2 separate regions of the Homo sapiens genome follow, and region 1 is linked to region 2. The links come from fine-mapping of genetic effects on gene expression. A gene starts in region 2. The other region holds a variant in brackets. All regions are shown on one strand. Distances are from middle to middle.

What was found. PIP is the estimated chance that this variant, and not a neighbour inherited with it, causes the effect.
Region 1: its variant is the best candidate, but not a certain one, in a credible set for the expression of SOS2 in whole blood (GTEx, PIP 0.69).

What each region holds. Positions count from the first base shown.
Region 1 is chr14:50,100,034-50,104,423 of GRCh38, forward strand. All of the region lies in intron 1 of LINC01599 (long intergenic non-protein coding RNA 1599), which reads right to left. It also overlaps a transcript of VCPKMT not described here. Among named protein-coding and RNA genes, the nearest start is that of LINC01599, 2.8 kb to the right of the region's middle. The variant CA/C (reference allele first, on the strand shown) is at 2,492.
Region 2 is chr14:50,229,835-50,234,224 of GRCh38, forward strand. It overlaps SOS2 (SOS Ras/Rho guanine nucleotide exchange factor 2), which reads right to left and starts at 1,744. Exons shown (of 23, transcript NM_006939.4): 1 at 1,363-1,744. The coding sequence starts at 1,449. RefSeq lists a silencer at 1,336-2,415 and an enhancer at 2,566-2,655.

The sequences.
Region 1 (4,390 bases), 130 kb before region 2:
ATAGGTAAACATGTGTCATGGTGGTTTGCTGCACCCATCAACCCATCACCTAGGTATTAAGTCCAGCATGCATTAAGCTATTTATCCTGATGCTCTCCCTCCCCACTGTTGAGGATCTTTTATGTCAGGCGTTGTTCCAGACTCTTTACACATAGGTCCTCAGTTTTGGGTTAACTGTGGAGAAACTCTAACAGCAACAAGCCATATTTCATTTGCTGTCCACTTTACAGTATTTTGCAGAGTCTCAGTGAACTTCTTTGCTAAGTTCTGTTCCTGCCCTCTGTGGCCTGCACTAGTCTGCTGCTTTGGGACTTTCGTGTTTTTGAAAGGGGACTATTTCTTTGTTTTTGCTTTTGGTATTGCATTCTGCTGGGAAGTATCAAACCAGTGATGCCCCATGCCTCATTAAAGCCTTACGGGACTTTTTTTTTTTTTTTTTTTTTTGATAAGAGTAACCTCTCAATTATTTTCCCCTATGGCCTCTCTCTTCCTATGACAAAGGTAGGGTCTAAAAGACATGGTGAAGATGTCTGGTTGGAACGTAACGGTAAACAACAGGCACACTGCTAAACTTGGAATCCTTCCTAACAACTGAGGATTGTTTTTCCTGGACCACTTATGTGTCATTTACTTGGGATGGTTTCTTGTACACCTCTCTAGTTTGCAAGAGTTTACCAGTCTGGATTCTCAGAACAAACAGTTTTGGCTTAAGCTGAGGAGACTGCTTTCTTAAGTATGGTCTCCATACATTATCTAGTTTAACCATCACCACAATGTTAGCCAGTAGATATTCTCATTTTACAGAAAGGGAAAGTAACATGCAGAGTTTAACTTGCCCAAGGACATACAGGTAGATTAGGTGGTAATCAAGTGAGCTGTTTTCTCATAAAGCTTGGGAGCATAAAGGGAAGGCGATTGGATTTAGAACTGAACTGGAACTGTCTTCCAGGGCTAACTGGGAATATTGTTCCTACCAGCCAAACTATGCCTCTCCTGTTCTTTGGACTCTCAGGTTAACAAGCAGACATTTCACAGGGAACAAGAGTAACAGACTGACTGTGGGTGTCAGATACATGTTTGAGAGTGAAGAGTTTTGAACAACAGAATTTTTTAAAATATCCATCCACTGCAGTGGCTCACAGCTGTAATCCTGGCACTTTGAGAGGCCGAGGTAAGATGACTGCTTGAGCCCAGGAGTTCAAAACCAGCCTGGGCAACACAGTGAGACCCTGTCTCTACAAAAAGAAATATTTTTTTAATTAGCCAGGCATAGTGGTATGTTGCCTGTAGTCCCAGCTACTGGGAGGCTGAGGCAGGAGGACCACTTGAGCCCAGGAGGTCGAGACTGTAGTGAGCTATGATCATGCCACTGCACTCTAGCCTGGGCAACAGAGTGAAACACACTCTCAAAAAAAAAAAAAAAATCCTTGTAACAAGATTTAGAAAGAAAATAGTTATTTTAAAAGCACATTACTGTACCTACATTCATAAATGTCACTGAAATCCAAAGATATTCTCTGGTTAAACATTTATTATTTGTGGGAGTGTGAAACTTGTTTTTCCTGTTTTTAAGTTTTAAGAAGCCAGTCCTTTGTTCCATGTGAATTATATGCCATGAGATTATTTACACTCATTCTAAACACAAGTGTAAAGCTTCTCATCTAAGCTTCGTATAAAAAAAAACAGTAATTTGTGGCTGGGCGCGGTGGCTCATGCCTGTAATCCCGGCACTTTGGGAGGCCGAGGCGGGCGGATCACCTGAGGTTGGGAGATTGAGACCAGCCTGACCAACATGGAGAAACCCTGTCTCTACTAAAAATACAAAATTAGCTGGGAGTGGTGGCACATGCCTGTAATCCCAGCTACTAGGGAGGCTGAGGCAGGAGAATCACTTGAACCTGGGAGGCGGAGGTTGCGGTAAGCCAAGATTGCGCCATTGCACTCCAGCCTGGGCAACAAGAGCGAAACTCCATCTCAAAAAAAAAAAGAAAATAGTAATTTGTATATGTAGCACCTCAGTACATTGCTGTACTGTGCATGAAGCACAAGCAGGTTATCAGGACACATTCCTTAAAAGAACAAGGTTGAGTACTGAATGTAGATACATGAGATTGTTTGTACTGTATACCTAAAACTCTGGCAATGATTTGTCAAACAATCATGAACCAACACAAGCACCTGGAACTCACATCGTTAATGCCTGGACTTCAGCAGATTAACAAATCTGAGTTAAAGGTAACTTTTAAAAAAACTACTCAAGGCCAGGTGTGGTAGCTCATCCCTGCAATTTGGGAGGCCAAAGCAGGCAGATTGCTTGAGCTCAGGAGTTTGAGATCAGCCTAGGCAACATGGCCAAACCCCATCACTACAAAAAATATAAAACTGAGCCGGTCATGGTGGCTCGTGCCCGTAATCCCAGCTACTCAGGAGGCTGAAGTAGGAAGATTGCTTAAACCTGGGAGGTGGAGGTTGCTGTGAGCCAAGATTGCAC[CA/C]ACTACACTCCAGCCTGGGTGACAAGAGTGAGACTCTGTCTCAAACAAACAACAACAAAAAACCCAAAAGCATTTAACAGCACTGACCCATCAAAAAGCTGTCAGTGGTACCTCATTAGAACTAATAACCTGAAAGGAATTTGTTAACTACTCAAACGTTTAAGCCTATAAAAACTGCATCTAGGCCAGATCTTTTACAAACATTTTAATTTTGCTTTGCAAGGAAGAAATATCCTTGTTTTCAACCTGTGAAAATTAAAAAATGTGAATTAATTCAACAAAATAAGTTACTGTATTATAGGTAATGTATAAAGGTTTCTAAAAATGAAGACCACCTATTGAGTATTCATGACAATATTTTCCATTAATTGCAAACAGAAAGGCCTTGCAAGTTTAATATAACGCAGAAGCAGAAAGCAAGTTTGTCCAGCCCACTGCTCATGGGCCGCATATGGCCCAGGACATCTTTGAACGTGGACTAACACAAATTCGTAAACCCTCTTAAAACATTATAAGATTTTTTTGCAATTTTTTAAAAACTCATCAGCTATCACTAGTGTATTTTACGCATGGCCCAAAGGCAATTCTTCTCCTTCCAGTGTGGCCCAGGGAAGATTGCACACCCCTTCTGAAGTAAAGCCTATGTGCCACTTTACACTGGCTGATGGAGAAACAGACACAATCCAAGGTTTTGTCATTCTTGTCTGTTAGTAAAAGACATGGTCAGTTAGCCTGAGGAATTAGTTAAGTCCTGCATCCCACACACGCACTCATTACACAGTGAAAGATTATTTAGGCAAGAAACAACTGCTACAAACATATTTTAAAGTCACATTGCTCTTTTAGAGTTAATAAATATAAACTCTGAAAATATTGTTATGCAGATAGATCAAGTCTCAGACTTCAGAAAAATGACTTTCTGCTGTACTTTAATGGCCTGCTACCCATCTGGTCTCAGGTTTAGCAAAGAACCGTGGAAGGAGGAATTGAGTAAGGGTCCAGGGCGGTGGAATGTTAATCCTGGAGCTCCAGCCAGCAAACCCAGGCTCCCATATTTAGAAACGAGGATTTGCTCTGTCCCTATTGGCCTTCGAATGCTCGTGGCAGTTGCTTTCAAACTGTAAAAATGAACAGTGAACAAAAATTTTCTTCCCCGTATCTTCTTTATTTTTCTAAGATTGTTATTTGTTTAAATAACAGTACATGTTGTGTAACAATGTTCTCAACTTCCTCCCATCCCAGCTGCCATTCCCACCGTGACTGGGCAGCAATGTTTACATGCATCCTATACTCTCAAAAAGGTGCCCAGATTTCACACTGCAACAGATAAAACTGACTTGCATTATGCATATTTTCCAAGTGCCCACCTGTAATTCCACCCCAACTACGGTCACATTTATTGAACACTTACTATGTGCCTAGTACCTAAGTACATTACATGTATTTGACTAATTTAATCTCCACAGCAACCTATAAGATATTATGATCTTTACCTTACATATGAGGAAACTGAGGCACACAGAGTTTAAGTAACTTCAAGGTCACACAGCTAGTAAGTGGCAGCACTGGGATTCAAACCCAGATAATCTGGTCTCAGAGCCTCTGTGCTGACACTGTTTTCAGAATGCACGTGAGCAAAATATTATCATGGAGATAATCTGCTGTACCATATTTTAGGTTTATCATTTGCAAATGATAGCATCTTGTCATTAATAATCAATGACTTAGAATGTATCTCACAGTTGATAGGGACTCACTAGATATTCACAGAACTTCACCAACACATAAGAACTTCAATGTCTTGAACAACCCCAAATATCTAATGGTTTAAACTTTAACTGGTGAAAATGCCTTGAGAATTTATTGCTTTCCTACCCAATATTATGGAAAGTAAAAAC
Region 2 (4,390 bases):
TGGTCAAAGGGCTAATTACTATCTAGGCATTTCCCCCTTTGCTTTTAATTCAGGCCAGAGTTCATTTTCACCACTCAGCACACTTTTCATTTCTTTCCCTCTCCTTACAGAATTGGGCTGCACATGGAAGTAAGGTCAATTTAATACTTTAGCACTTGGTATACCAATGGAATAACTGTCTAGCTGCCACTAGTCATTTCTGCCAGGTTCTTTAAAAAGATACGACTTAGTGTTTGCCCTGAGGAAAGCAATACTTCCTTGTAAGAATTATGAAAATAAGGGAAAATCTGCAACTCTCATCGCATGAGGAAAATGTCTTTAACTTTAAAATACACTACTTCCTTTCATTTATAGAAATTTAATGTCTGAGGATATATTTTCCAAGTATAGTCTTTTAAATTAATCTTTATTTTTTCCTTATTTTAGAATGTATTCTTGGTTATTTTGCACAAAAGGCAGAAGAGACTAAGTCTGCATTAACGGCAAAGAAAGAAAGCCCCTGCTCAACAGGCATGACAGCTGATCACGCACCTATTCACAGTCTTTAAATGTCTTGATCTTACAGAAGGATTTATTATAAAAATGATCGTATGGTTACTACCTAAATTCACAGAGGAAGACCGCCACCATCTACAGGAAAGATGCACCCTAGCAATGCACCCAAACATGAAAGACTGATTTGCAGGAGTTGCCCCTTTCTTGTTCCTTAAAATGATTTCAAGTCCTAAATCGCAATTTGGTCGTGAAGACACTGAAGACACTGACCAAATTTTCTAAGGGTAATCTCTTGTAAACAGGTAAGACACCGTTTGCAGGAAGTGGGAAGGCGCTTTAAATTTACCTTGAGAACTGTAAAATGAATAAGAATATTATGACTCACTGACATTTCACACATGTGAAACATCCATATTACAAAAAACCATTGCCTCATAAGTGGATACCCTTGACAAGCAAACCGCCTAGGGGGAACACTCCCAAAGAACTTAATTAAAAGTAATTACCCGGCCTGAAAATGTGCTTTTGTTTTAGAAACTGTCTAAATACCAGCGGGACTTTCTCTTGCCCGATTCCAGCCTGAGGACAACAAATTGGTCAACGGCGGAAGTTGCCTGACGAAATGACTGCAACATGAAATCCAGTTTTATGATCATAACAAAACCTTCCTTCCGGGACCAGGCAAAAAAAAAAAACTTGAGAAACGTCCTTCAGAATGCAACAGGCAATTGTGAGCCCCCCATTGCCAGCCAACGAGAAACGGCTCGGCCCCGGGGACTCGAGCCCTGTGGGAGGGACGACCTGCTCCCCGTTAGAAGCTCGGGGGGCCACGGGCCACCCGCCGGCCGCCCCGCCCCTAGCACTGACCTTCCGCAGGGCCGAGACCAACAGTCCCCGCCATTTCGGACTGTTCTCCTCGCTGAAGAACTCGTAAGGCTGCGGCGCCTGCTGCATGGCCCCGGCGACAGCGCCTCCGCATCGGGGGCAGCCCGCGGGCCGGGCCGGTGGCCTGACAGGCAGGGCGCGGGCCGCCTCGCCTCGCCGGCGGCCGCCGCCTCCCGCCCGGGCCGAGGCTACGGCCGAGGCGGCTCGGAGGCGGCGCCGGCGGGCTGGCGGAGACCCCGGGGTCGGCTTCCTCCGCCGAGGCGGCCCTCGCCTCCCGCAGCGCCCGCAGAGGAAGCGCGGCGACCCGCAAGCCCGGGCGACCCCGGGCGGCGACCTCCTTTCCCGGCGGCGCTGGCCCGCTTCTGGGGCGGCTCCTCCTCCTTTGTCTGGGTTCGCGGCCCGTCAGGGGTACAGCTGGCCCAGCCCCGCCCCGACTCCCGCTACGGCCGCGGCGGGCGGTGAGCAGCGGCGGCGGCGGCGGCGGCTGCTCGTCTCCTCATCGCCTCCTCCCCGCCCTCCCAGCCGACAGCGCCGCCCGGCCCTGCCCACTCGAGTCACCTCCACAGAGCTCTGGGGACCGACCCGGAGTGCGCGTCGGGCGAGCGAGCCTCGCTATGGCGCGCACAGCGCTGGCCGCCGTTGCTGCCCCTTTAGCAGCAGCGCAGAGTGCCTTGGGGTCGCCGCTGAGCCCTGAGTCCCAGCAGCCGAGGCTCGGCCCGCCCCCTCGGCCCGGCGCTCATTATCCCGAATAGCCCAAGAGGCCTAACACGGAGCATGCGCGCCGCGGAGCAGGCACAGGCGCCAGCCCGGCGCGGGGGTGCGGGGCCTGGGGCCCCGGGGGAGTCCGCTTTTCCCGAGACTGTGCTGGGGGCCGCTCCAGACTCTTCAGTTTGACTGCTTTTTACCCATATGCTCCCTCCTCTCGACCTGCTTAAGACAATCCGGACTCGGTGCCACTCTTGTAGCGCTGGAGCCCCAGGACTACCGTCGTGGGAGGCTGCATAGGGACGTGGAGAGAAAGGGGCATTCGGGCTGGACAGGATATTTAACGTATTTGTGCTCTACGTGGCTTGTTTTCATGAGTACCGTATGTTTACACAAAGTAGGTACTATATATAATATATCGTTAGGAGATACAGTAACTATTTCTTAGGGTGATGGTGTGGGGACCGAGAGATGAGGCGTGGAAAGCCCTTAGCCTGGTGGTAGGGTCAGAAGGGGCAGATGACAGTGACGTTGATCAAGCTTGAATTGAAAGGTCCTTCACTTGCACGGGCCCCTGTGCGTTCACAAAATCATATCGTTTTTACAAAACTTTCAAGATATTTTCGAATTGTTTTCTTAATCGTGTCATCCAAATTGTGTAGGCTTCAGGTCCTACAAAACCTGGATCGGCGTCTAGGAAACACTCATTAGCAACCCAGAAAAGATCCTGACAAGCTTTTCAATCCAAAGAGGCATAGGCTCTGGTAACTCATTACCACAAATTTCATCCCACTAAAGAGGCTGAGCACATTACTTTTAACAGGTTGTAAAGAAGATATTTTACTCCCTGTCCCTAGCCACCAGCAGTGAGAAAGGGAAAAGACGAACAGGGTACAAAAAATAAGTCAGTACTACAATTCAGTTCCGGCATCAGTAGCTGAGCAATTATTCTCCCCAAAACATGCACCACTTTTTCATTTGGGCAAAATCAGAATGGCAGAGTTGGAAAATAAGATTATTTTTCTAATCCACTAAAGTATCCACTAAATCAAGAACATCCTCTAATAAATGGCCATATCCATTCACATGTACTTGGGATAAAAGGTGGGATGGTAAAATGCTTGTATTTCTCCCATTAATGTTTCAGTCTGTGAGAGCGAAGACTTTGGCTTATATAGAGGGTCCTTACTTTTCTCTCCTGTTCCCAGACTCCAGCTATAAACTACTGTGATGTCAAACTACTAGACCATGTATGTTCTCTTTACTCATAGGAGAGTAAACTTGTTAGAAATCTCATTCTTGGCTAGGAATATCAGAAGGCTTTTCTGGGCCAAGTCAGGCCTGAAGACATATTTTGTTTAGCTAAGGCTGTATTTAAATTTAATTGTTAACATTTTAAAATCAAGAGGCTTCATATAAAAATGTATATTTTCAGCTTCTCTTGACAAAGATCTGGCAACACTGGGACCTACTGCATTCGTGCAAGAGAGTAATCAGCAGGCACCGGGTAGTGGCTGCCCTCTTTATAAAAATATGCCATCCATTTCCAGTTGGCTATACTTCCCACCTGGCACTCTTCACCCTTTTATGTAACTTGCCTAGTCTCTACAGGCATCTGAGTTCTGATGTCTGGGCTGAGCAAACAGAAATATGATCCACGTGCATGTGGAGGATAGTCCAAGAATGACAGCAGTAAAAAGTTTCCCATTCAGGGCCGGGCGAGGTGGCTCACACCTGCAATTCCAGCACTTTGGGAGGCCGAGGCGGGTGGATCACCTGAGGTCGGGAGTTTGAGACCAGCCTGACCAACATGGAAAAACCCCCTCTCTACTAAAAATAACAAAACTAGCTGGGCAAGGTGGCGCATGCCTGTAATTCTTAGCTACACGGGAGGCTGAGTCAGGAGAATCGCTTGAACACGGAAGGTGGAGGTTGTGGTGAGCTAGATCACGCCATTGCACTCTAGCCTGGGCAACAAGAGCAAGACTCCGTCTCAAAAAAAAAAAAGTTTCTCATTCAGACAAATGGGCTATCTAGAAAAAATGTTGGATCCATACCCTATACAATACACTAGCAAAAACTCCAGATATGTCAAAGATTTAAATGTAAACAATAAAACCATACAATGATTCATTTATAACCTCAGAACGGAAAAAGACACTTTCACTATGACACAAGATCTAAAAGACCGATAAATTCAATTTTTATAAATGTATGAGCCGGGCATGGTGGTACATGCCTGTAATCCCAACAACTCCAGTGGCCGAGGTAGAAGCATAGCTTGAGGCCAGGAGTTGAAGACCAG